Linked DNA regions of Homo sapiens. The protein of the gene in region 6 purifies or fractionates together with the protein of the main gene of each other region. This does not show direct contact. Each region holds a gene or a part of one and is shown on either strand. Other genes may lie near its edges. The genes, in order: MUC7, PLCH1, MGP, COL1A2, LTF, HTN3 and ZC3H3.

Region 1 (3,942 bases), 440 kb from region 6:
TGTTCATTTCTTTCTTTTACCACATATACAATCCAGCAGAAGATATAGTAGACTCAATCACTAAAATATATCCTAAACCCACTCTTATCTTTTAATTGCTGAAATTTAGTGCAAGTCACCATCATCTTTTATCTGGACCACTGCCATAGCTTCCTGACTAGTCTCCTTATCTCAGCTTTTGTTACCTGCTACCTATCTTCTCCTGAGAATCCTGTCATGTAAATCCCCTGGGAGTGCTTTGATCATGCTGAGACTTCCTGACAGATTTGAAACCATATTCCACACCAAGACCTAAAGGCCTTACAAACCTGGGTTTTCATCTGTGTCAGTTCTCATCACACTCACTATAAAGTTTGTGCTCTATAGATATTGGATAAATGAAACAAATTATTTCCTTATGCTCTATCTACCTACCTACCTACCTACCTACCTAGTCTATCTACCTATCTATCTAGTCTATCTACCTATCTGTATATATTTTTAAGACAGGGTCTCATTTTGTCACCCAGGCTGTGGCATAGTGGTATGATTACGGCTTGCTGCAGCCTTGACCTCCCAGGCTTAAGATCCCAACCTCAGCCTCCGAGTAGTTGGGATTACAGGCACGCACCACCACACCTGGCTAATTAAATTTTGTTGTTGTTGTTGTTGTGGAGATACTGTCTCATTATGTTACTCAGGCTAGTCTTGAACTTCTCTGAGCTCAAGTGATCCTCCCTCCTAGGCTTCCCATAGTGCTGGGATTAGAGGTGTGAGCCAGTGCACCGGCCAATTGTCCATATTTATAGGTTTCCTGGAAATAAAAGATGTCAAGCTTCTTGGAAATAGGGGTTGCCTATTATGCTTTAAAAGTCTCAGGTAGGTACACTAAATGTTTGTTATTGATAGTTAAGGAAAAAACTTATTTGGGTGAATACTTACCGAGAAGCAAGCACTCAGTGCACAGATGCACACAAACAGCGGCAGAGTTTTCATTCTTTCTGATGTCTCCTGGGAAAAGCAGAAATGTGGCGTACTATTAGTTATGATATTATGGGAGAGGAATGCGTTTTGGTAAATAACTTATTTTTATTAGAAAGTACAGGCAAAAAGAGACCAATGGTTTCTGAAAATTATGTATACATTTTCATTCCATAGGGGTGATGCAAAATTGCTTCAGGCCTAAAATGCATTCTTTTAGAGAGGAAGCAATGGAGGAGGCTCAAGAATTATTCTAACTAGTTTGCAAAATGAGCATTTTCTATTGATATTAAAGATTGGCTAGGAAAGGCAGGATCTTAGGAAGTTTAGCAATAAGAAAAGGAAATAATTTTCTTCTTATTTCTTTTCTAATTCAGGAAGCTCCCCTCTGTGGGGAACCATCATATAAATGACCTGATACTACACAGTTTTGCAAAGACTCCTGATGTTAGAGGAAAATGCTCTTTGTCGCTGTGCTATAAGGCTGTCACTTGGAACAAAGAACCAGGTCAAATGGACTCTTCCTCCAATTTCATTCTACTGAAGATTTTGCCATTTGATAATCCTTTTTCTTGTACCTTTTTTTTTTTTTTGAGACAGAGTCTCGCTCTGTTGTCCAGGCTGGAGTGAAGTGGCACACGCATGGCTCACTGCAGCCTGCACCCCCCAGACTCAAGCGATCCTCTCACTTTGGCCACCCTAGTAGCTTGGACTACAGTCATGCACCACCGCTCCTGGCTATTGCTATTATTATTTTTATTTTTTGTAGAGACACGGTTTCACTGTGTTGCCCAGGCTGGTCCTGAACTCCTGGGCTCAAGCAATCCACCCTCATCGGCCTCCCAAAATTCTGGGATTACGGGTGTGAGCCACCGTGTCTGGCCGATACCCTTTTTCTAAGTCCCAAAATGACAGGAATTATTCTTTATTCATTGTTATGTCATCATGCCTAGTACATAGTGCAGACTTAATACATATTTTTTTTGAATAACTACTTGCAAAAGAGAATTGTATTTTGGCTATAGGTTGTAGAAGGGAAGAGTGAGAGAAGAATGTGGTCTTTTGTTTTTCTCATTTTGGTTATATATGTAATGTGTACATGTCAGCTTATCAGCTTTAGAAAACAAAATAAAGGTTAAATCATATAGACAGATTACATATTAGGGCAGGTAATTAGTGTGCATGTCAATGTGGTGGGCTGTGAGATTAGACACACTTTACAATACAATCCCATGGTTTATAAAATGGGTGTTAGAGTCAGTCAGAGACTTGATTTAAGCTCTGCCCACTTACTGTGTGACTCTGCCACTCACTGCATGACTTTGAGTGAGTTGCAATCTTACATCATAAGAATGTCCTGAGGATTGACTGGAATAATATATATATTACAAATCGTACTGAGAATAATGTCTTATCCATAATAAAGTCTCAGTGGTATTATTATAGTACTAGCACACTAAGAAGAAAACAATCTGACCCAATTGAAAAACGAAATGGTTACTTATTATTCTTCAGGTTCCTAATATATTGTCAGATTTGTTTTTAAATTTCAAGACCAAAAAACATTCCTACCAATCATATTGTGTTCTAATAACATATGAATTGAGTGTTACCACACTGTTTGGCAGTTCATAAGAAGAGAGGAGAATAACTGTATTAGAACAACTATTGCTATTACTTAATATATGTATATTACTTGAAAGCTGTTTAGTTTATATTAGAACCTATCTAAAGTATCCACATACCTGGTGCAGTGTGAATCTTTCTTCTTAGGGTGTTCAATCCAGTTGCTTGCTTTTAGCCAATCCTTTGAGGATGGTAACTAGAAGCAAAAGAAGAGAAAGCACAAGAGAATTTTCAGGTTTTATAACACTCCAGTCGAGCTTTTTGGAAATAGGAAATCTATTAGATTTAAGATAAGGTCATTTGTGTCAAGGAATTTACTTTTAAAGAAAAGAATAGTTGTGGTTTGCTGAGATTGACAGTAGTTCTTTGTGCATCAATTTCTTCCTGATGAGCACAGTGACGATCAGAGGTTCTCAATGAGTAACTTATGTGCTTGATGAGTAGTGGAACAGTAATTGAAGGCGCTTACGGAGAAACAAACAACCATGGCCCAGGTCCTCCCAACAGGAACAGATCATCCACTCTTTCCTGTTGGGCTCTCAAAGTAAGCAGAGTGATTGCCTTCTGACAGTTAATGTGATGGAACACCATATTTCCTTGTCAATAAGACAAGTTAATAAAGGACAGAGGATTTAAAAAAAATACTGTGGTGCCAAGTACTGGTGCAGGGCAGTATTTAAAGCCAAAAAATCAACACTGAATTTTTAAATACAAGTAATTAAAAACAATTTTTGACTTTTTGTCTTGAAAAATATTCAAACATATAGAAAAGTGAGGAGGGTAGTAGAACTATATACTCATTCCCTGGTTTTCATAATTCTTAACATTTTGCTATATATCTTAGTTGTTTTGCTGAAGTATCTTAAGGTAAACTACAGAAATTGTAACAGCTACTCTCTATTTCAGCATTTCTCTCTAAAAAGCCTTTCTTTTATAACACAACACCATCAACCTATAACAATATTAATAATTCAAACATATAATCTAAAATTGAGTTTATACTCAAATTTTGGCAAAAATATTTTTAGTCATTTTGTTCCTACCAGGACTCAACTAAGGGCCGTGTGTTGCAGTGACTTGTTATGTCTCTAGTTTCTTTTATCCCAGAAAATTTTCTCCCATTTCCCCCATGGTAGTGATATTTTGATAGCTAGACTAGTCATTTTATAAATATTTATTTTTAAAAAGAAACTTAATAACTTAAAAAAGAACTTAAGAATCATTTTAATAGAGATCTTCAAAATTAGATATTTCTACTATGTAAAATCGTTAATCTGGAATACAGTTTTGAAGGTGTGATTCCACTTCTAGCTAGTCAGTTTGTTCTTTTGCACATACAGTCTCTGAGGGCTTACA
Region 2 (3,500 bases), on a different chromosome or scaffold from region 6:
TGAAACTGTAGTGTTCCTTCAGGGACTCCTTGTGAACCCTTAATTTCTCAAATTAATGATTGTGCTTCAAATGTATTTTACAGTATTAATCACAAGAGATTGAGGAAAAATAGGTATACAATAATGTTTGTGAAATGTATGAACAAACAAATTTTAAAAGATTACAAATAAAAAGACATGAGGCTTGGGTAAAGAAAAATTTCTTTATATTATGGCGAAAATATAAGAAGAATGCTGCCCCTCCAATCGTATGTAAATATTCAAGAAGTAAACTCGCCAGACTATATTGTGCTTGCCTTTAGAGTTTTACATGCTCCAGAAAAAGTGAGAAATTATCAAGACACATAGGCTTCACAAATGAGAGCTTTGAGAAAACGCATGTCATAAAAATACAATATAAACATATAATGGAGGCATTTCCTCAGTGAATTTTTAACCCAATTCTTTAAAATATCATTTACTCTTTTTACTAGAAAAAAAATTTCCTTTAAAAGCAAAAGTCTAGAGAGCCTAGATTACAATACCATAAAAATAAGCCACGCATCAATTCCACAGTTACTTAGTTTTATGTGTTGAAAAGCTTTTAACATAAACTCAGATGGGAGTTACGGATTTTAGAGATTTCTTGCTCTTCTACATAGACACTTTTTTTAGTGTAAATTCTATTTCTAGACCATCTTCATTAAAAAGTGAACACAGATTACCATCTTACCATTGTCATCTACCACACGGGTTTGATCTTTACAACAATCTACTGGCAATCCAATAATTTCAACTTCAACAAAAGGGTCAATGATCTATTAAGTAAAGAGAAAGTACTATTACAAATAACATATTTCTATACATATGTTAATTAATCTGAGAATATTGGCCAAAATGTCTACATTTCGACAGCAACTGATTTTACAAGGTGCTTAGTAAGAAAAAGAAATGGTACTAGGTGTGGTGGATTCAGATATATGAGACAAGTATAAAAAATATTAAATTACTGTTTGCTAGTATTTATTAACGCCAACAACTTTACCCACTGAACCTACAACTTTAGTTCAGGGCAAATACCAAACAGAACTGAGATGTTTTGCCCATGCACAAATGCTGAGAGCAGCTGTATCTATAATAGTCAAACACTGGAAACAACCTAAATTTCTATCATGAGTAGGATGGATAATTGTGGAATATACGTTTTTTGTTTTTTGTTATTTTGTTTTTTGAGATAGGGTCTTACTCTGTAGCTCAGGTCGGAGTGCAGTGGCATGATCTTAGCTCATGGCAGCCTCCACCTCCCAGGTTTAAGCCATCCTCCCACCTCAGCCTCCCGAGTAGCTGGGACTATAGGATTGTGCACCACACCTGGCTAATTTTGGTAATTTTTGTAGAGATGGGGTTTTGCCATGTTGTCCAGGCTGGTCTCAAACTCCTGAGCTCAGGCAATCTGCCCACCTCAGCCTCTCAAAGTGCTGGGATTATAAATGTGAGCCACCGTGCCTGGTCAGAAGTATGTGTTCAATGAATACTCTCAACAATGAGAAAAGAATAAAGTTCTCCTATATAACATAACGTTGAGCAAGCCAGACATAAAAGAGTACCTACTCTAAGAGTCCATTTATATAAAGTTTAGGAATAGACAAAATTTGTCTGCTGTGATAGGGGTTGGTGTTTGCTATGAGAGGCAGTGGGGAGGGTAGATATTGACTGGGAAGGTGGACAGGAGCCTTCTAGGGATTCTGGATATACTCTGCCTTGATCTGGGTGGCATAATAATTAATCAAGCTATGCATGTTTGATTCTTATACTTTAATTCCCATCCTCTCCTCTAGGGGGAAATATCTTGTATTGTTGGTCATCTGTAGACTCTCCTTTCTGGTACCAGTTCTGGGCGACGAACAATGAAGGAATAAAACCCAAAGAATCTAGAAAGAGCTGACCTAAGAAAGTCTAAAGCAGAGAAAGTAGACTTCTTAAAGCATTTATGGCGGTACCAAATTGTAGAGCTCTGTGATTTCCTTCCTTAAGATCCAAAAATGATGGTTTAATAGGCGGGAGTGACAAAGAACCTGAAGTAATGGATCAGCTCTGAGAGGAAGGGCATGAGCATAGGAGAAGCTGCTATATAGCGAGAAAACAGAAGCCAAGAAGGTATAATGGAAACAATGGGCTAAGAGCTCTGGAAAGAAAAAAGACTGTGGCCGCAGATGAAGACATTTTAAAATCACGCGACACAGGTACAGCAGATGATAATAAGAATCAGCACATGGCCAAGGAGCAGGTGGCTGATGTGCAGCAGGGAGGAGCATTGCAGGAGGACAGGAATGTGAGGTTATATTATTAACGGAACATTGCCTTTCTAGGTTAAGATATACTCTTAGGTGTTGTTCTGTTAATAATATAATTGTCTTTGCACTCCAATTTTAGCAATGCTAGTGTCAACCTTAAATTGTGAATTCAATTGTGTGCTCTTATGCCTTCAAAATAGATGATGGACAGCAGTACAGCAAGAACTGTGTGACTTACCAATAAATCAGTTAATGTCTGATAAGCTGAGGTCAGTGCTCAGTTATGAACACACATACATCTCTGAAGACATTTCGGATAAAATGTAAATGCACTAAGATAATCACATAATTAACCACTTAGACACGTAGTCATAGGCAACTTACCTCGCCTCGATCTCCAAACATGGAGTCTGGAGGTTTGGGGAGTTGCTGTCCACTGATAACTTTCAGGATGAGCTGCTTTTTGGGGTTGGCAGGAAGAGGGTCACCAGAGAAAGGGTTGAAAGTACCTAGGCCAAGTAAAGTATAAGTTGGTAACATAAGAAGAAACACACACGCATGCACAGCTTAAGCTTGTAAACAAAGAAACAAACAAACAAAAACAAATGCTGAATTACATGATCACATAACTATCAGTGTGGCATAGCTGTGGTTTTCATTAGAAACCATGTTGCCAAAGGCCAGTGGAGTGGGCCAACTTAAAGCAAGTGTTTGCAATGCAATGATCAACTGTGGAATGAAGGAAGAGAAGCATTTTATTTGAACACCAACAGTGTAAAAAGAAGAACAATTATGTCAGATTCAAATAATTTTCTAACCTAAACTATCTCAGGCATGAGTGAATATAACAAACAGAAAGAAGACTTGAAATTAAGTAAACAGCAGAGCAAGAAAATGTGCAAAGTGTAAAATCTTGAAGATAATCCTGTCAACAACTTTTTTATCTGAATTGTTATATATGTAATTTGGAAATTTTAAAAATAATTTTAATGAGCAGAACCAAAAGAAAGTGTTGTTTGATCTAACACATTATCCTTTTTTTGCTTTGTTTTGTTTCTTTTGAGATGGAGTCTCACTCTGTCACCCAGGCTGGAGTGCAGTGGTGTGATCTTGGCTCACTGCAACCTCTGCCTCCTGGGTTCCAGCGATTCTCCTACCTCAACTTCCCAAGTAGCTGGGACTACAGGCACGCACCACTATGCCCAGCTAATTCTGATTTTCAGTAGA
Region 3 (4,125 bases), on a different chromosome or scaffold from region 6:
GACAAAAAGAATGAAGCATGAGGCTCCACCTAGTTCATCACTGCTCCTTGAAATACATCAGTATTGAAAGACACATCCACCCCACCCCCAACCCAGCCCTATTGCTGTTCCAGCTCAAGAGTCAGAGGTCCCGAAGCTGTAGCTCTTCTACAATCTGCTGCTCTGTGACTTCAAGTCTGTTGTCTGCAAAGAAAACTATTGGGTTCCCAAGCAAGAGAGGCACATCTGGTAGGACAGATTTTGTGATTGCAAAAGAAGGGGGAAAAAAAGAAAGAAAGAAAAGACCTCTCTATACAAGATAACCAGAGGCATCAAACTGAAATCCTCCTGTGGAAAATAAGCTAGTACTTCTGGGCCTGATGGTGTAGTGAAAACCTGTGCTTGAGGATACATTACAGTGAAAGAGCAAAGTGAATAGTAAGTAGCTATTACTTACCTCCTTAGGGAGGTGTGTTGTTTGTCTGTACATCCCCCACAGCACCTAGCACAGTACCTTGCATCTCACCTGCCACTCACTAAAAAGTCTATCAAGTTAGTTAATTATCGAGACAACGCCCTCAGAAATGAGAGAACAGTACCCTCTTATCCTTGCTGCACTTTCCAGCACTGATACGCTGCCTAAAAGAGGACTAGGGCACAGGTTTGAATTAATGTCACAAAACTGGATGGGCAAGTTACAACGGTGTTGATTAAGGAAACAGAACTCATGGTGCACCGGATATCTCCATCCTGATGAACCCTTGGAAAAATGCCAAAGATGCATATCCCCAGGCAAATGCCTGATTAGTCTGGGATTGATAGATTGGTCTAGGATTCAGCCCTACTGGGAAGATGTCTAAATTATAATCAGTGTAGAAAGCGAAGTTCTCCTAGAAGAAGAGGCAAAGGTTAAAAAGAAGAAAAGAAAAGAAAGTGAAGTCCTTTCTCCCCCAAAACCTCTCATCAATCAATCAGGGTAACAAACAGAACACTAGGGCTCTGTCTGTGGACCAAACCCAAAAGCCCTGCGGTCAGGGCCAGGAGGGTAGATCATGTGTTTGTGGCAACTTCCTCTGTGGGCTTTTGCCCAGGTCTGTCCCCAAGCATACGATGGCCAAAACTTCTGCACCAGAGCAGCATCCTGTGTAACACAGTCAGGTCCAGCAGTTAGGGAAAACTGCCCACTCAGAGTAGATAATATCTGGAAGGAATGACTGTTTGGGAAAAGTTCCAATGCTAGTTCAGTGCCAACCCTTCCCCACCTTCTCCAGCTCTCTCCCACTGGTTCCTCCCCTCTCAACTGCTCTGGTTCTTATAAAAACCTCACAGCCTTCCACTAACATCCCGTAGGAGCCTCTCTCCCTACTGCTGCTACACAAGACCCTGAGACTGACCTGCAGGACGAAACCATGAAGAGCCTGATCCTTCTTGCCATCCTGGCCGCCTTAGCGGTAGTAACTTTGTGTTATGGTGAGAAACTTTTCTCCCATTTCTCTGTGTTTACTTTTCTGCCTCTGACTTTGGCTTACTTCTATTTTTCCTCTCCCTCCTCCTCTTCTTCCCCCTTTCTCTGTTATAATCTTAAAGTACCATTACTTTCACATTTCCCAGTCTCCGCAGAAACTGATCTGTTCTATTAAGTCTTTTTTATATCCTAAATATCCAGAGTCTTATGCAACTTAACAGGCAAACCCGTTCAGTGGTAAGTCTCTGTATATCTAGAAACTCATATTTCAGAAAGAAGATACCAAATTCCCAGCCCCCTGCATCCTCATTTTTAAGGATATTTATTTAGACTTTGGTATCAATGGGTTAAGGGTATTGTTTAAACCACTTGCCTTTGAGAAAATCCATTTTTATGTGAAGTATTAAGTATAGCCCTTTCTAGGGACTGGACAATCTCATGAACTTACTATGTTTGTTCAGTTAATTAATTTTAAAATAAAGTTTTACATCAAAAGAATTTTAGAAAAGAATCATTTTCATAACTCCTGTTGTCAGAAAATAAATTTTGCCTGTTTTCTATATGTCATTAAATATACCTGCATTTGTTCAAAGCTTATAAAAGGAAATCTGAAGCAAAGTTATTTACTTATTTCAGTCTTTTGTTTCAATTACCTAGATATTTTCATTGTTTTAAAATTTAAATTACATTAACAACCATAAAGATTATGCTTCTCACTCTTGTATTCACAAATTTTCTGTATTAGAGGATTTGATTTCTTCACCTCCTTTTTAAGTTTTGAAGAAAATTCACTTGCTGGCAAATATTAATAGAAGCTTCTTATTCCAAAATTTATCTGCTGTGCTCAGGAGAGTGGCAGAAAGAAGAAAACTTCGGCTTTGATATCGTTTCAGTTCTCTCTCTGAACTGGCATCGTGCCCAGGGTGAGCTGTCAGCTGGAGCTAGTGGTTTCTGTGGCTGCCAATTTAACACAGGTTCTTAAGAGGCTTTCGGAACCCTCTTAGAAACCTGCCCTAGTAAGCCCAGCAGAGCAACTGCCCTGTAGTTCTCTTGCCTGGAGAAACCTGGCTGTCTTCTGGATCCTTCTTAATCCTCTTTGACCCTGTTCTCAAACAGGCTCTGAATAAATCAGAGAAGAAGGTTCTCTGGAGACTTCTGTACAGCACTTAAAGTGTCTTATTTTGCTTGTCTGAAGACGTCATAGCCCTTGGGAAATTTTAGCTGAAAATGGCCACTCCCTCCTTCAACATCAGAGAAACTAAAATATAGAGATATCCACAGCAAGGCCAGAGCTAGAGAAAAACCTCATAAATCCTAAATTCCTGAAATTTCTAATAACCACACTGCTAAATATATTCTTCATGTTTTTAGACTCTTTCCTCTTCTTCCATCCCTGTATTTAAACTATCACAGTGTCTAAATTGATAAATAATAACATAATGAATCATGGATAAATATTGATATAATGAATCTTTTTTTTTTAATTTCAGAATCACATGAAAGCATGGAATCTTATGAACTTAGTAAGTGAATATTTAACTTCTTTATTCAAATCCCTTGCATTAAAGAACCTCTTCTTATTTTTAAATAAACAAGATGGAAAGATATATAACAGGGAGGGAAAAGGGGGCCTCTTTTGGAAAACTAAAGTAAATTTTTAAATCTAATGACTATAAAAATTGCCAAAGGAGCAATTTTTTAAGTTTGAAGTAGTGCAATATGGGATTTAAGCTACAGGCGACATATTTAGAAGCCATAAAATCTCATTTGGAAATTTTAAATTGGCACCACGTCAACTGCACAGATGGAAAACGAGGAGTAATGACAAATGGTAAAGCACAGAGCTGGACGCCAAGTCAGCTGGGAGACCACAGGCGCCACGTTAAGCTGAGTGCTGTTTTGGTTTTTTTGTGTTTTTCTTTCTTGTTTTTTTTTTTGAGACAGTGTCTCACTCTGTCGCCCAGGCTAGAGTGCAGTGGTGTGATCTCGGCTCGCCGCAACCTCCACCTCCCAGGTTCAGGCAATTCTCATGCCTCAGCCTCCTGAGTAGCTGGGATTACAGGCCCATGACATCATGCCTGGCTAATTTTTGTATTTTTAGTAGAGATGGGGTTTCACCATGTTGTCCAGGCTGGTCTCGAACTCCTGGCCTCAAGTGATCCACCCACCACAGCCTCCCAAAGTGCCGGGATTACAGGCATGAGCCACCACACCCAGCCAGCTGATTGCTGTTGAATAGCTGGATTTATAAAGACTGAGCATAGGAGGAAATGGCACATCACTCTCATTTTTAATTTATTCATTATTTTTATAGTGTTTAAACTGTTCATGTATCGGCAATCTAGTTATGCTTCATAAATCCTCAGGACAGAGAATTTCTCCTCAAAAGGAATTTAAAATCTACCAAGTAGAAATACAGAAATTAAGAAAGGCAAAGTGATCGTCCAAACTCAAAACCAACAAAGCCTATATGACAAGTCTCTAAGACACATGGATTGATTACTGATTTCATTTGATCAGGAAGTTAATGAAATCTACTTTATACTCTCCTTTAATTTTTGCCAATCTCCGTTTATATGAGTTGCATAAGTTAAGGCACTTTCAAATATATTTGTGTCAAGGAATATTCACGGAAATATTTCCAGCTATGTGTCGCTAAAACTGCATTTATTTATTTTCTG
Region 4 (3,500 bases), on a different chromosome or scaffold from region 6:
TAAGTCTTCTGGTTAAGGTTTCTGGGAAAAAAAAATAGCAAAGATGTTGATTTCTTGGAATCCTTTTACAGGTTCATAACAGAAAAATCTTCATTCCCTGTAGGCATTTAATTAAACCTAGTTGAGAAGTGTGTGGGATTCCTCAATTATGAACAAAACACGTATATTGGCTTTCTTTAAAAAAAAAAAAAAAGAAGAAAAAAGAAAAGGCAAAGTCCTTCGAAACTCAGAGTCCCATTCATTTATCATTAACTCCTATCATTCTACATAGTTCTGATTCCAATATGCCAGGGTACCAGTGGCATGACATTGTTTTTCCTCATAGAAATTTGCCATAGTCTCTCCTCCATTATTTGGTTGGTTACAGCCTCATAAAGGAAGACAGGAGTTGCTTCTTTCTGCAAGAAAGAAGGTTAAAAACTATAAATATTTCCCCCAAATGGCCAGGGTATTATTTTATTGCATCACATTGTTTGCATCTTAAGATCTAGAATCTTTGCTGCTCTCTTCCAGGCCCTTGGTGATTAACAGAAAGGAAATGACCTTGTACATTTGCTCATAGGGTATTTCTGGCCCTCCTGGTCCCCCTGGTCCTGCTGGGAAAGAAGGGCTTCGTGGTCCTCGTGGTGACCAAGGTCCAGTTGGCCGAACTGGAGAAGTAGGTGCAGTTGGTCCCCCTGGCTTCGCTGGTGAGAAGGGTCCCTCTGGAGAGGCTGGTACTGCTGTAAGTGATTTCCAACTCCTCTTTCTTAATACCTTATGCTGAATTAAAATAAAGCCCCTACACAAATCTTCAAGTGGCATCTATTTGTTGATGAGTATTGCAGGCTCTCAAGTAGAGCTCAGTTGAGCCAGGAAATCTGTCCAGCACACACTGAGGGGCTGTGGCTTCCAAGATGCTCAGAAAGCACAAAATCGGGAAGACAATAAATGAGGGAACTCAGTTTTATCACAAAGCCCTTAAAGCTATTGAAGGCACCTTACTGGTACCAGGATTAGAACAGAGTCCCATTGCTGTGGCCATCCTACTACATATTAATCAATCTCAGTAGGCTACCAATTTCTTAAACATACACTGTCCAGTATTAGTGCTACTCTGAAAGGTGCCCCTATTAGACCTTAGAGGCCAAAGTCAAAATTTGCTTCCTTTTGATATACTGATTTTACTGATTTCCTTTTTGTTTTTGTTTTTTGTTTTTGTTTTTGTTTTTTTGTTTTGGGATGGAGTTCCCCTCTGTTGCCCAGGCTGGAGTGCAGTGGCACGATCTCAGCTCACTGCGACTTCCGCCTCCCCAGTTTAAGTAATTATCTTGTCTCAGCCTCCCGAGTAGCTGGGACTACAGGCACACACCATCATGCCTAGCTAATTTTTGTATTTTTAGTAAAGACGGGGTTTCACCATATTGGTCAGGCTGGTCTCGATCTCCTGACCTCAGGTGATCCACCCACCTTGACCTCCTAAAGTGCTGGGATTACACATGTGAGCCACCCCACCCAGCCTGATTTCCTTTCCTTTGTGTATATACCCAGCAGTGTGATTGCTGGATCTTATGGTAGTTCTATTTTTAGTTTTTTGAGGAACCCCTCCTACTATGTACAACTATTATGTATCCATAACAATTTAAATTTTTTTATTTGTTTCCCTGCCTAGAGGCTATAAAAACTCTATTTCACCACCCCAAGTGTCTTTATAAATCTCAACCACATATTTTTAAATGTTGTGCCATTGGTCTCAAGGATGAATCAGATACAAAAGTATTCATGCCAAGATGTAAACTCACCGTCATCACTAGAGAAAAGATATCCAAGGATATGTCCTAGTAATAGGAGGTCATTAGCCTTTTTCTAAGCTGAAGACAGTTTATTCTCACAATCTTCAAGCCAACCTGTGTTATCACCTAGGGTCTTACCCATAATACTCAGTATTTTTTCTCTATTTAGGGACCTCCTGGCACTCCAGGTCCTCAGGGTCTTCTTGGTGCTCCTGGTATTCTGGGTCTCCCTGGCTCGAGAGGTGAACGTGGTCTACCAGGTGTTGCTGGTGCTGTGGTGAGTGCTTGACAGTATTCTGACTCCATTAACATAAGAAAAGATTTTAAAAGCTGCCACTTCAAATGTGACAGATTGATCACTGAATAACTTCACTTAAGATTTTTATTCATGGCATTTTCTTTATACAGATCACATGTCACTTATCTAAGAAGCTTTAATACCACCTTACTTAGACACACACTATAAAGACACAGCTTAAAATTATGCAGAATGATTTTTGTTCTTTCCACGCACTTAGGAATGATACAATCTCTAATTGCGTTTACTCCTCTGCAATATGAAATGCTGGCATCATTTATCCTGTAGGAAGAATGAAACTCTGGAAGTTCTGAATCGTTCCATTAAACCTTATACGTGACAACAACTAGAAACCATCTCATCTCCATAAAATATATCAACTTTTTGAATTCATTTCATTTGGGATACTGAATGACACGAGGCTCACTTTTTACAGAGCAACATCCCGTGATTACATAAAGCTGGCCATCTACATGTGGAGAAGGAGGGCAGAGATGATACTAATGATACTTCTTACCATTGTGTGACCCATTCACATTCAATTTACCTTCTTCCTTCAAACTAGAATCTCCTGAGTAGGGTTGTTTTGGAGGGGAAGGTTAGCATTCCATCGAATAAGGGGAATGTCATTTTATCTTCTCTGCCTGTTTAGGGTGAACCTGGTCCTCTTGGCATTGCCGGCCCTCCTGGGGCCCGTGGTCCTCCTGGTGCTGTGGGTAGTCCTGGAGTCAACGGTGCTCCTGGTGAAGCTGGTCGTGATGTGAGTCCAACACTTGGTTTGTAAAATAAAACTGAGCAGGATTTCATTGTGTGAAACTTTATGTCCTGAGCTGAGGTTCTCTTCTTCCAAATTTCTGAACAAGATGGTCAGCTTCTCCATAGTATCTACACCTAGTACTGAAAATATGAAAATTGCTTAGGCCAAAGAATGGGCTTTTCAATAGCACACTGCAAAACTGGGCCCAAGTATTTAAAACATCTCTAAAAAATATCTAGGTTGGCAGGTTTTTATCCCTAGTTTTAACAGTCTGAAAGAGGGTTCGTTACTGAGCACTGGAAGTGATGAAGACAGAGTAGCTACAACATAGGGGCTGGTAGGCAGCAGAGCCTCACCAACAGCCTTAATTTGTGTGGTGTCTTCACAGGGCAACCCTGGGAACGATGGTCCCCCAGGTCGCGATGGTCAACCCGGACACAAGGTCAGTACACTTTTCATCTTTCTCTAATTCAAAAGTGATTAAAATGCAACCCAGATTGATGCTAAGCTTCATTTTGCCTTTGGTAGGGAGAGCGCGGTTACCCTGGCAATATTGGTCCCGTTGGTGCTGCAGGTGCACCTGGTCCTCATGGCCCCGTGGGTCCTGCTGGCAAACATGGAAACCGTGGTGAAACTGTAAGTTTGTGAATACCAGTCCCTCAGTGCAGCATTC
Region 5 (3,500 bases), on a different chromosome or scaffold from region 6:
AATATTTTTACAACTATATTAAAAATAGAGAAGTGGACAAAGATTTCTACTCAAGAATGCTCACCACAGGGTTATTGATAATAGCAAAGTAAGGGACAAAGAGGAATGGGGGCATGACTAAACTGAGCCATATTCACATAAAAGATATCCTGGAAGCATGTTTAAAAAATGTTTTCGTCCGAGTGCTGTGGCTCACACCCGTAATCCCAGCACTTTGGGAGGCCGAAGCAGGAAGATTGCTTGAGCCCAGGAGTTCGAGACGAGCCTGGGCAACAAAGCGAGACCCTGTCGCTACAATAATAATAATAATAATTATGCAGGTGTGGTGGCGTATGCCTGTAGCCCCAGCTACTTGGGAAGCTGAGATGGGAGGATCACTTGAGCCCAAGAGTTCCAGGCTGCAGTGAGATGTGGTCGCACCACTGCACTCCAGCCTGGGTGACAGATCAAGAATCTGTCTCTTAAAAAAAAAAAAATTAATGCTTTCCAAGAGTAAATATTCATGTGGAAGAATGCCCATTATACGCTGTTTAGTGAAAAGGGCTTAAAAACGACATACTGCAACACTTCATTATTGTTGCATGCATATCTGCAGATGTGCAGAGAAATACTGGAATGGAGAATTAGCCAGACTTTAACCATGTCTGTCCCTCTGTGTGAGATCACAGGTGGTTTGGGGGGTTTGTTGTTGTTTTGTTTTAACATAATACCTTTCCATATTTTCCAAATTCCTTATAATAATCCTGAGTTGTTCTTATAACCAGAGGAGTGGGAAACCCACAGTAAACTGCTTTTTGAAACTAAAATGCTTTCTGGCCCTGAGCACACCTCTCCAGGCATCCCTGCCTCACCCAGGCCCCCGTGGCCTCTTTGACTGTTGACTTCACTTTAAGCAGATGCCCAGGCCCTAGGTCTTCCACCGGGCCCACCGCCCGCCCCTGTGATGGAGCTCCCTACCAGCACCAGGGCGATGCAGTCCTCTGTGGTGGAGGCCGAGGAGCAGGTCACGCTGCCTTCGCTCAAGCCACTCCACTGGTTACACTTGCGCAGCTCCTGCTCGCCCACCGCACACCACACGACCCGCGCACGCCGGGCAGCCACTTCCTCCTCACCTGCCAGAGGGAAGACCGCAGGTGGCTGGGCAACCTGAGCTTTGCCAGGTTGTCCAACCTCCCCAGAGCCAGGGTCCTGCCCAGACTCTCCCTGGAACAGGAGCTACAGTACATGTGTGGACATGTGGACCCATACCCTCTCCTCCTCCACTTCTCAGCTCCAAGCCCCTTCTTCAGGTCCACAGAGCTCCCTGTGTTTCCCACTTCTGTTCCTTTGGAGAAGTTCCCTGGCTTCTAATCTATCCATTAATCTTTAGAGTCAGGAGGCGCCTATTGTCTCTGTCTCTGAGGATAAACGCTCCATGACCCAGAGACCAGTGACAGTCCCAAGAGATGGCCTAGGGGACCTTGAGCCCAACCCTGACTTCCCCTAACGCCTGCAATCACCACCAATAACTACGGTGCAGCCTCTGGGTTCCCCCAGACTCCCACCCCCAGCCCCCCAGTAGAGAAGGAGCCATAGCTGAGTTCCCCCACCATGGTGTCCCCAACTAAGTTCAAGGTCTGGGCCTGGGAAGTGTGGGTAAATCCAGGCCCCCGGATTCATCCAGGAGGGGTCCTGGCTATCTTTGTTCATGTTCATGTTTCTCACTTAATAGGAGGCAAACTGATTTTTCTGCCAGGCCTGGGGAGCCTGACGTGCACTGATCAGGTGGCCAGACTATTCTTTTAGAGACACCTGACCTAATCCACAGAAGACACTCACACCTGCATCAAACCTCCACGATGACCCCACAGTGTCTGGGAAAAGGAGTGACCGCCACAAAGTAGGGCCACCTGCTGGGAAGTAGAAGACCACACCAGGCGGACCTCAGGACCCTCCTGGGCTCACTCACTTTTCCTCAAGTTCTGGATGGCAGTGAAGTAGCCGGAGCCAAGGTACAGCCCAGAATCTATCCTCGGGGGCACCCTCGAAAACCCAATGGCAGAGTCCTTGAACAGCAGATCTTTCTGCCCACTAGGGGAGCCAAAGAGCTGGAATTTCGGTGACTTGTCCTTTCCAAACTTTTCCTAATTAAGAAAAAATAGAATTATGGTGTCAATGGTAAATAGGGAGGAAACAAAAAAATGATGTTAAAAAAGAGTATCTGGAGCTTTGGGATCATTCTAACTGAGAGCAGGAGCCTCGGTTGAGACCCTCCTGCAGAGGGACTTGTGCCATCTCGGAGACCCAAGCTCAGCTATGGCTCATTCTTTGAAGAGTTGCTGAGGTCCAAGCACCTTAGGGCCCTGAGAAGATTGCATCGACCACCCCCTGCTTCTGCTCCCATCATAAGACGCTGTCAGCCCGTGTGACAGAAGAGTTTCATTGCTTCTGCTGTCCACAGTACAGCCTGGGCAAGCAGCCCAATGCATTAGTGTGCTATCCTGCAGCAAAGCTACAGGACTTCTGGAGTGGCAGAAGTCAGGGAAGTAAGAAACCTTGCTCCCTGCCCCCCATATCCAAGCAAGTGGGGAGGACCGTGGGTGAAGATACCTGTGCCTGGCGGAGAAGATTCCAGATGGCATCCTCCTTGCCATTCACACTTCGTGCCACAACGGCATGAGAAGGGACCCGGGCCAGATGGCAGTCTTTGAACTTGTCCACTGGCTTCCGAGTGTTGTCTGGGCAGAGTAACTCATACTCGTCCCTTTCAGCCTCGTCTGACAGGTCCTCTGCAGGGAAGGTGAGGTGGGAGGGAGTCTAGATAAGCCGACTCCAGCAGTAACCTCGAGCTATAGTTCCCCTTCTCCCTATAGAATTTTGAGCTTGGGGAGATAGCTGACAAAACTGAGGGTCAGAAAGGCAGGGGTTTGCTCCAGAACACTCAGAAAGGTAAAGGTAGTGCCCCAAAAGCCTCAGGGGGCAGCCGAGGTGTGATCCTCATCCTAAATCACTTAGGCCACCCTGGGGTTCCCGTGCAGCTGCTGCCTGGCAGGCCAGAGAGGCCAAACCAGACCCGTCTGTTTCTGCGGCATCTCTGCCTGGAAAAGTCACTTTGCAGAGACAAGCTCAGGGGGCCACCAAGGGTTGCTCCCTTACTCACATCTCTGGGAAGAATAAAAATGACAAAAATGTTAACAAGGCAGGGAATAAGGCAGGAAGGTGAGACACTTTCCAACACTGAGTATATCAAAAGAAGGGGAAGAATGGTTTTATGAATGAGTTCAGGCAAATGTGGAATATCATATATAAGTTGCTTCAGAATGTGTAAAGTGAAAAAAATCTTGCCCGAGTCATTTTATGAGATTAGTACAACCTTGATGTCAAAATCAGAAAAAGTATAGGAGGGAAGAATTAAAAGTTTATTTTACTTACGAACATAAATGCAAAATTTGTAAATAACGTACTAACTAACTCAATCTCACAGAGTATTTAAAAAGCTAATAGATTGGAATGAAGGTTTA
Region 6 (4,247 bases):
AAATAGGCAGCTTTATTTTAGAAAGAGTAAAATAAATTGTATGCTAACTTGAACAGTTTGGTTGTGCAAGAAATTACTTGAAAATTCATATTTTGACACCCTCTAATACTTAGGTTCCATTGAAGTGTACCTTGTTCTTTCCTCAGATTTCTAACTTCAGGTGGTCTAGAGCTTTTAATATTTAAAGATATTTTCACAGTTCTCAGTCCCACATATTTATGAAGCTTGCTTAATTTTCTTTTATTTTTATATTCAAGTAATTGTACTTGAGTGTTCGCAGGTATGTAATGAATATTTATTCTAAGTCCTTTAAGAACTTATATAGGTTAATTCAAGGAAAATCTTTACATAGAAATATTAAAGCTGTATTGAGGTGAACATGAATATATGGCAGAACGTAAGGAATAAGAAAGATCCTTGGGATAAGTACTGAGAATGTATCCTTTAAAACTTCCAGATATACTTACAGTCATGGAAAGCATGAGAGCCAAGATTAAAGCAAAAACAAAAAACTTCATAGTTGGCTGAGTCCTATAAAATCAAACATGAAAAATCAGTAATCACATTCTTTCATGCATTCATTCATCAAACTTCTACTGATGACACTATGCTTCAAAGCATTGGGAGACATGCTCTGTTTTCCAGGCTGGAGTGCAGGGGCATGAGCACAGATCACTGCATCCTGGACCACCTGGGCTCAAGCCATCCTCCCACTTTAGCCTCCCTAGTTCCACTTGTAGGTGGAACTACAAGTGTGTGACACCATGACAAGCTAATTTGTTTTTCTTTTGGTAGAGAATATTTTTAGTCTCACTATATTGCCCAGACTGTTCTGAAACTCCTGGGCTCTAGGAATCTTCCTGCCTTGGCCTTTCAAAATGCTTGGATCTTCGGTGTGAGCCCAGGGCATAGCTTCATTAATTGATAAATAAAGGTGAGTGCTCTAATTTGGAATTATTAATATGCTAAGGAAACACACAAATGGACATCTTAAATAGACCAAGATAATGGGAGTAAGAAGATAACAAAGAAAGGCAAGCTTGAGTTGGATTATATGGAATGAGTAAAGGGAGGTGTTGGGAGACTGCAATGAAATACAACAGAGAGGAAAGCATGTTGAAAGTTCAAACAGTTTAGCATGTAGGGAGGACAAAACTGGAGAAAAGATGACCACTTAGGTTGTTGTGACATTACAAGGGATTTAGATAATGACATTAAGAATGCTAATTAAAGTACAGTGTAAAGACATATTTAGAAAGTAGAATGGCAAGTAATGGGGACTTTCTTTATAATAAAGTCAGTGAATATGAGCCAGATTTCTATTAAAGAATAGCACAGATGGTGCAACCTTGAGATTAGAACATTAATGGTATTGGTTAGAGAAAAATAAAATGAAGAGAAGTCACAGGGAAAATGATTGTATCTACTTTGAGAAGTTGAACTGGTGAAGATTATTCAATATTTCAAATAATATTATTCAAAGCCTCATCTGGGACTCTGATATGTTTTTATAATTATGCATATGCAAGTGAATCCAGTTCTTCGGCTGATATAAAAAAGTAAAGCGGATTACTTATTTCTAAATTACAAACATGTAAATAAAAGCATTTCCACTGGAAAATACAATTACCACAAAACTTAGAATTACATGGCATTTTTATTTGTTAGTTGCTAGCTATAAAGTAATTCATTAATAGATAATATTTTAAAAAATTTTTCTAATCTCTCTTACCTGTCACTTGTGATAGAACATTACAGTAACGTTTTTCATCTAATTATAATAAAAATGTCCTACTCTTAAACAGCCCTACATCTCTATCACAGAAAGCAGAACCCATTTGCCTTATTATTTCTTCATTCATTTTGCTTCACTCATTTAAATGGAAACTTCTTGTATAGGACTAACTATAAAAATTATATATTTCTTGAAGTTTTTCTATTACCTAATAGATAAATCAAATTATGACTCTTTTTATGATATAAAAAGACAATTTTACCGTTGTTTGTGACTGTCAATTGTGTTGCAAATAGAAAATCAAAAAAGGCTGTAAGAAAGTGCCCTTCTTTTACTAACAGATAAAATGATAAATGAACATAGATAATCAATGTATAATTAATAGTTTTGAAAAACATATTTCCCGAGTAAATCAATAATAAAAATTTGGAATAATAAACTGTCTTTTCTGCCATAACACAAATGAATGAAAATGAGTTAAATAAATTAGTAAGATTGAGAAGACTAATTGTTATACAGTATATATTTTGATTTATAACAGAACTGTTTTTAATGATGGAAAGGCCAATGAAAAAGTAATAAAATAGTTTACGACTAAGAGGAAAGTAAATTAAAAAATAAATTTTTATAATAATGAATTTGCAAGACAGAATCTATCAGTATCTTGTAAAATGTGAACTTCTACATTAAGTTTAATATAAAAGTAATAAGAAAGTAGATATCAGGTATCTAGGCAAGGAAATAAAAAGAGTTCATTGAGGTCCCACCATCAGCGAGGATGTAATACATTGCCATATTCCACATTAGTTACTTTGCATGATGATTGCTGGTGTTAATTCATAGGAATTGAGATCTAGAAGTCATCTTCAGATGCCAATAAATGGTAATTATTTCTTTATAAGAAATTATCATAGATAATATACATTTTCATAAGTGGGTTACTATTGATTTTAGCAAACAAAAGCTTATGCTAATATATAATATTAGATTGTACTTGAACATGTTACCTTTTACTCAAGAGGAGAATCCAGAAGTCAGTGAAGCTGAAGTGAAGTCTCAAGAGATGTCCTTTCCTAGATGGCTGATGTATTTAAACACGTTGAAATCTCCCTTTTGTTTTTTGAAATCTCCCTTTTGTTTTTCAAAATAACATCAATTATGAGATCATATGATCGAGACGGAAAGTAATGCCCAAAATCTGTCTCTACAAATTCTAAAAATAAACTTAACCAGGTGATTCTGCAATAGATCATTGTGAAGACAAGGCAACCGGAAAGCGAATGGACCCATCACATGCTAATCCCAGTGTTAGTCTAGCCCTGAGTGAGTCAGACAACGGAAAAGCACGCTGGAGGAAACCAGGCATAGAAATGATTGCAGTGATAAAGATGTTTCTGTAGAATACCATCTACTACTTTTCAACAAATATATGTCCAAGATGGAACAACGCTATGTCAAAAATAATACTTACCATGTTATGAAAAATTTTACACGTTCTCTAGTAAATAGTGATAATTGGCATAATAAAATTGGAGTCATTCTACACTTCAAAAGTTTTCCTACAAATCATCATTTATCTTGTATTTTTACCTGCTTACATTGACTTAGAATATTTTAAGTAATAAAATGAATGTAAACATTGGCCAAAATTCAGTCATCTTTTGGATGCCATATGATAAAAGTATTCTCATATTTAATGTCAAACGTTTCTAGGTGCTTGGTCACATATCTCTCACATAAAACTGATTTCTTATGTTTAGAAATTTGAATTTACTTCCCTGGAGTTTTCAGGGGCCCATATATCTTCACAGAGGTCATTTATTGAAATAAGTACACTAGACAGAAAGAGAAAAATAGAATTTTAATTAAATTAATAGACAAACATGTATAAAAGATCACCTACTCACTACCGGTTGTTTAATTCAATGTGCTAAGAACCGAGTATTAAAAACTAACTTCTAAGTTCAGATAAGTTGTACAGCTCAGTCCATTGTTCCTCAGGATGTCCCACATACTACCATCACAATCAGCATCAGCTCATACCTGTTGAAATGCAAATTCTTAGTCTACTTTTCCAAAATTACTGAGTCAGAATCTTGGGGTGTACACCTGGAACCTGAATTTTAAGAACATGTCCAGAACATTATTTGTGTACTTTAGAGTTTGAAAAACTATATAACAGATTTGTAAACGCATTGTCTTTAGATTGATCCCACTAATAGAGATTATGTTTTTAATTTGAGTCTGATACAGGAAAGGGAACAACACACATCAGGGCTGGTGGCTGGGGAGGGAGGGAGAGCCTCAGGGCAAATAGCTAATGCATGCGGGGCTTAAAATCCAGACGACGGCTTAATAGATACAGCAAACCACCATAGCACACGTTTACCTGTGCAAAAAACCTGCATATTCTGCACATGTATCCTAGAACTTAAAGTAAAATAATAAAATAAAATAAAATGAATTTGTGTGGTTTTTAAAGGAAATATTTATTAGGTAAATGTTTTATGCT
Region 7 (3,500 bases), on a different chromosome or scaffold from region 6:
GGCCTCGCCTGTCGACCCAAAGGGCGAGTGCGGCCTCACTGGGCTCTGCACAGCCCCAGGACTGCCACAGTCGCCACCAAGGCTGGCCAGCGGGACACCGGAGGCCATAGCCCTACTCGATGGCAGGCGGGCCTCCCCAGGGGCAGGGGTGGGAGCAAGGAGGCCCCTGGACCCCTGCCTGCCCTGGCTGGCACCAGCCTCTGTGCGCCAGACCCTCCTTGCTGGCGTTGCTGAGGCTGAATGAAGGAGTTCTGGGTTGCTGCTGGTGCAGGGGTGAGACATGCCCCAGAAGGGCTGGGGGAACCAGACTGGCTCTCTGATGGCTCTGGGCCAAGGGAAGGGCCAACGGAGGCAGAGGCCAGTCAGCAAGGGTGGCCGGGATAGACTGTTCACAGTGTGGTGACGTCAGGGGCTCTGCGCCCGCCAGGGCTCTGCCATGTGTGTAAATGGCAAGGCGAGATTCTGCGGAGCTCAGCACTTGGCACCGACGGGGAGACACAGCAGCACCACAGCCTCCCAGGGAGGAGTGTGCAGCCCCTCCCTCTCCTCCCCACTGCTGAGCGGGCCAGGGCTATGCACTCCCTCCTCCCCAAAGCTCAGACCCTGGGCCATCCGGGTGGTGGGCACCGTGTCTGAGGGGGCCAAGTGCAAACCTGCTGCCTGCCACAGGCGTCTCTGTGGACACTGAGGGATGGGAGAGCTGGGATGGCAGGTGCACCTCCCCACACAGGCCCACCCAGCCCAACAAACGTGGGCCACAGGATCCCGGCGAGGGCTGAGACGACCCAAGGGCCCCGGTGCGGGGAGACGGACCCATGCCACAAGCCCCTCCGTGGGTCCCGCGGGTGCACGGTGCAGGGAGAATCCCAAGGACGCACCGCGACCTGGGTGAACAGGCGGGGCCAGCCTTGGCCCTGTGCAGGGAGTGGGATGCAGCTGCTGCAGTGGGGGCCACTCCCTGAGTGGGTGGGTCCTCCCTGGGATGGGCTCTGGCTCTGGAAAGGGCAGTAGGCATCCCCTCCCTGGCTCCAGCTTCCGCAGAGCAGGGCAGGGCCTGCAGACTGACTGCCAGGAGCAGCCTCTGCTGCCTATCCTGGCCGCCTGGGGCTCTCGCGTACGTCAGGACATCATGGTCTCCATGGCTGCTGTCTTGGCCACTTAATTATCAACCTCAGTCAGTACTACTATCGTGACTACCGGGAGCTTTCTGAATGTGGGTGCAGTGGTGCCAGGTAGACCCCGCCTGCCCCCAACCCATCTCCTCCCCCTGCTGGCTGTGCACAGGGTCCTGCGATGCCTCACGCCCCCTCCCACTCCTGCCCAGGCCTCTGCATGGCGGCCTCAGGATGCTCTTGCTGCTTCTGTCCCTTCTGGGCCCTCTCAGTTTTCAGCTCATGAGAAAGGCCTCCCTGACCACCTGACTGGACACGAGTCTGCGTATTTACACCTGTGGGCCCCAGGAATCTTCACTGGTGTTCAGCCCACGCCTCTCCCTGCACTAGGGACGTCAGAGGCAGCATCCATGGGAGATGCAGGGCACCCTCCCACCCAGGCAGGCAGGTGAGGGCTCGGGGTGCCCTTCCCTGGGCAGAGGGATCAGCCTGGCTGCTCTGCCCACTGCCTCTAGGACCAGAGAGGAAAGCCAGTGCCAGGACTGTGCCTGCAGTGTCAGTGCACTCAGGACAGTGCCAGCCAACGTGGGGCTTGGCCTCTGCCAAGGAGGCCCAGGGGAAGGTGGGACCACCCGGCATGAGCAGAGAGGCACCTCATGGCTTTGTCCCTGGGGGTCAAGCACGATGTCCTCAGAGCACCTGCTGCTGGCCCCGGGAGCTCCACTGGTCAGGGTCCCTGTTGGCTCACATGGCTGGTGGCTGGTGGACGGCCACAGGCGCCTGGGACCTGCTGTGCCAGAGACTGGCCAGGGGCTTATACTTCACTCAGGGAAATGACTGCTGGAGAGAAGCCCGAGGCCCCTCCCCTCCACGATACAAACAGCTGTGTGTAGCCCCACAGGCCACCAAGCTCCAGAGTCCGAGGATCAGAGGTAACCAGAGAAGGCCCTGCTGGGTGACAGGAAGGCCTATCCCCCAACCCACGGCAGCATCCCCCAGGGGCAAAGCCTCACCAAGGCCCCCATGTTCTGAGCCAGCTCCTGCACTGAGCACCCGGGGTGTAGCAGAGATGAGACCACACGCACAAATCACACAGCCCAGTCCCTCAAGGTACGGGTGGGGAAGCGGAGGCACACACAGGGGTGACACAGTGCCCAGGAAGGGACCCAGGGCTTCTCACCAGATCCTCAGTGAGTGGGAGGCACACACAGGGGTGACACAGTGCCGAGGAAGGGACCCAGGGCTTCTCACCAGATCCTCAGCGAGTGGGGATTTATTCCTGCCCAGTTCACCAGGACCCCCCAGCCCCAGCCACCAGGCTACAGGCATGGTCATGGGCACTGACCAGCCACAGTGTGGCTCAGAGCCCTGTGGGGCAGGTGCCAGGGCCCCCGTGCTGCTCCCAGCGACTCTGCCCAGGAAACAGCCCAGAAGCCCCTGGAGCCCAGAGATGGATGCTAGGAACACAGCCAGGCAGGGCGGCCAGTGAGGCTGGCTTCCAGGGAGGTACGCTTCCTGCCTCTCCTCTGACCCCCGCAGACCCTGCCGTCGGAGTCTACCTCCTCCAGGGGCTGAACCTGTTCTCTCTCTAGGTCCCAGGCGGGTCGGGGAGCCAGCATGGCCCAGCCTCTGCAATCCCAACACCACCTGCAATCTCCCTCTTTTTTTTTGATGGACAAGAAAGGGGGTAAAATTGGACTGAAACCAAAATATTTTTCTAGTTAATTTGTAGGATAAGTGAATCCAAAGCATTTCCTTCTCCTGAGCCTGTTTCCCTGGGCTGGGAGGGCGCAAGGTGGCGGCGCCGGCTGCCTCCAGACACAGTTGTCGAGGCGTCGCCAATGCGATTACGGGCGCCGCGGCCCCAGGTGTGCGCTCGCCCGGGCGTGTTTGCCGTACCTGGCATCATCCTTTTTCCAAAAGCGAAACATGGTGCTTGTGAGCAACTCTCCCCCACCCCACAGAAAATCAGGGGCCGCTCAGCCACGCGAGGTGGGCGCCACTCCAGGGCCCTTCCTGGGGGATGGCAGAGGAAGGCCTCCTGGCACCCTCCATTCTCCGGCTGCCCTGTTGGTCTCACTAGGGATGGCTACGAAGGCGCCGGGTGTATGGAAGAGTGAAATTAACTCCCAGGATGGGACGTGACCCATTTGGGAAGTGCTTGTTTGGACTGGCTCCCTGGGAGCATGAGGCCCCTGACCTCCTCCCCAAGACAGGGGCGTGAGCCAAGGCCCAGAGCAGCCACAGCATGTTGGAGGTTAGGGGGTCTGGCCTGCAATGCCCACCACACGCTAGCCGGTCGGTGTCATCTCCCAGCGCCCCCGCCCTCACCTCTCACCTGTGCGCAGGAGGGGCCTGCTGCCCGCATCACTGGGCTGGCCGGAGGTC

Evidence for each region.
Region 1: the proteins of HTN3 (region 6) and MUC7 purify together in Homo sapiens (affinity purification with mass spectrometry, with the first as the bait; one study listed by BioGRID). This does not show direct contact.
Region 2: the proteins of HTN3 (region 6) and PLCH1 purify together in Homo sapiens (affinity purification with mass spectrometry, with the first as the bait; one study listed by BioGRID). This does not show direct contact.
Region 3: the proteins of HTN3 (region 6) and MGP purify together in Homo sapiens (affinity purification with mass spectrometry, with the first as the bait; one study listed by BioGRID). This does not show direct contact.
Region 4: the proteins of HTN3 (region 6) and COL1A2 purify together in Homo sapiens (affinity purification with mass spectrometry, with the first as the bait; one study listed by BioGRID). This does not show direct contact.
Region 5: the proteins of HTN3 (region 6) and LTF purify together in Homo sapiens (affinity purification with mass spectrometry, with the first as the bait; one study listed by BioGRID). This does not show direct contact.
Region 7: the proteins of HTN3 (region 6) and ZC3H3 purify together in Homo sapiens (affinity purification with mass spectrometry, with the first as the bait; one study listed by BioGRID). This does not show direct contact.

Annotation. Positions count from the first base shown.
Region 1 is NC_000004.12:70,471,055-70,474,996, reverse strand, and holds the start of MUC7 (mucin-7 precursor), read right to left. Parts: upstream 2,801-3,942; 5' UTR 2,706-2,800; intron 991-2,705; 5' UTR 976-990; coding exon 922-975; intron 1-921. UniProt on the Homo sapiens protein: May function in a protective capacity by promoting the clearance of bacteria in the oral cavity and aiding in mastication, speech, and swallowing. Binds P.aeruginosa pili.
Region 2 is NC_000003.12:155,490,072-155,493,571, forward strand, and holds part of PLCH1 (1-phosphatidylinositol 4,5-bisphosphate phosphodiesterase eta-1), read right to left. Parts: intron 2,783-3,500; coding exon 2,658-2,782; intron 798-2,657; coding exon 713-797; intron 1-712. UniProt on the Homo sapiens protein: The production of the second messenger molecules diacylglycerol (DAG) and inositol 1,4,5-trisphosphate (IP3) is mediated by calcium-activated phosphatidylinositol-specific phospholipase C enzymes.
Region 3 is NC_000012.12:14,883,055-14,887,179, reverse strand, and holds the start of MGP (matrix Gla protein isoform 2 preproprotein), read left to right. Parts: upstream 1-1,325; 5' UTR 1,326-1,388; coding exon 1,389-1,449; intron 1,450-2,292; coding exon of another isoform or gene 2,293-2,367; intron 2,368-2,934; coding exon 2,935-2,967; intron 2,968-4,125. UniProt on the Homo sapiens protein: Associates with the organic matrix of bone and cartilage. Thought to act as an inhibitor of bone formation.
Region 4 is NC_000007.14:94,422,395-94,425,894, forward strand, and holds part of COL1A2 (collagen alpha-2(I) chain precursor), read left to right. Parts: intron 1-562; coding exon 563-724; intron 725-1,941; coding exon 1,942-2,049; intron 2,050-2,722; coding exon 2,723-2,830; intron 2,831-3,215; coding exon 3,216-3,269; intron 3,270-3,355; coding exon 3,356-3,463; intron 3,464-3,500. UniProt on the Homo sapiens protein: Type I collagen is a member of group I collagen (fibrillar forming collagen).
Region 5 is NC_000003.12:46,447,906-46,451,405, forward strand, and holds part of LTF (lactotransferrin isoform 1 preproprotein), read right to left. Parts: intron 2,769-3,500; coding exon 2,590-2,768; intron 2,124-2,589; coding exon 1,949-2,123; intron 1,113-1,948; coding exon 958-1,112; intron 1-957. UniProt on the Homo sapiens protein: Transferrins are iron binding transport proteins which can bind two Fe(3+) ions in association with the binding of an anion, usually bicarbonate. Lactoferricin binds to the bacterial surface and is crucial for the bactericidal functions.
Region 6 is NC_000004.12:70,027,012-70,031,258, reverse strand, and holds the start of HTN3 (histatin-3 precursor), read right to left. Parts: upstream 2,801-4,247; 5' UTR 2,743-2,800; intron 532-2,742; 5' UTR 519-531; coding exon 468-518; intron 1-467.
Region 7 is NC_000008.11:143,471,948-143,475,447, forward strand, and holds part of ZC3H3 (zinc finger CCCH domain-containing protein 3), read right to left. Parts: coding exon 3,451-3,500; intron 1-3,450. UniProt on the Homo sapiens protein: Required for the export of polyadenylated mRNAs from the nucleus. Enhances ACVR1B-induced SMAD-dependent transcription. Binds to single-stranded DNA but not to double-stranded DNA in vitro. Involved in RNA cleavage.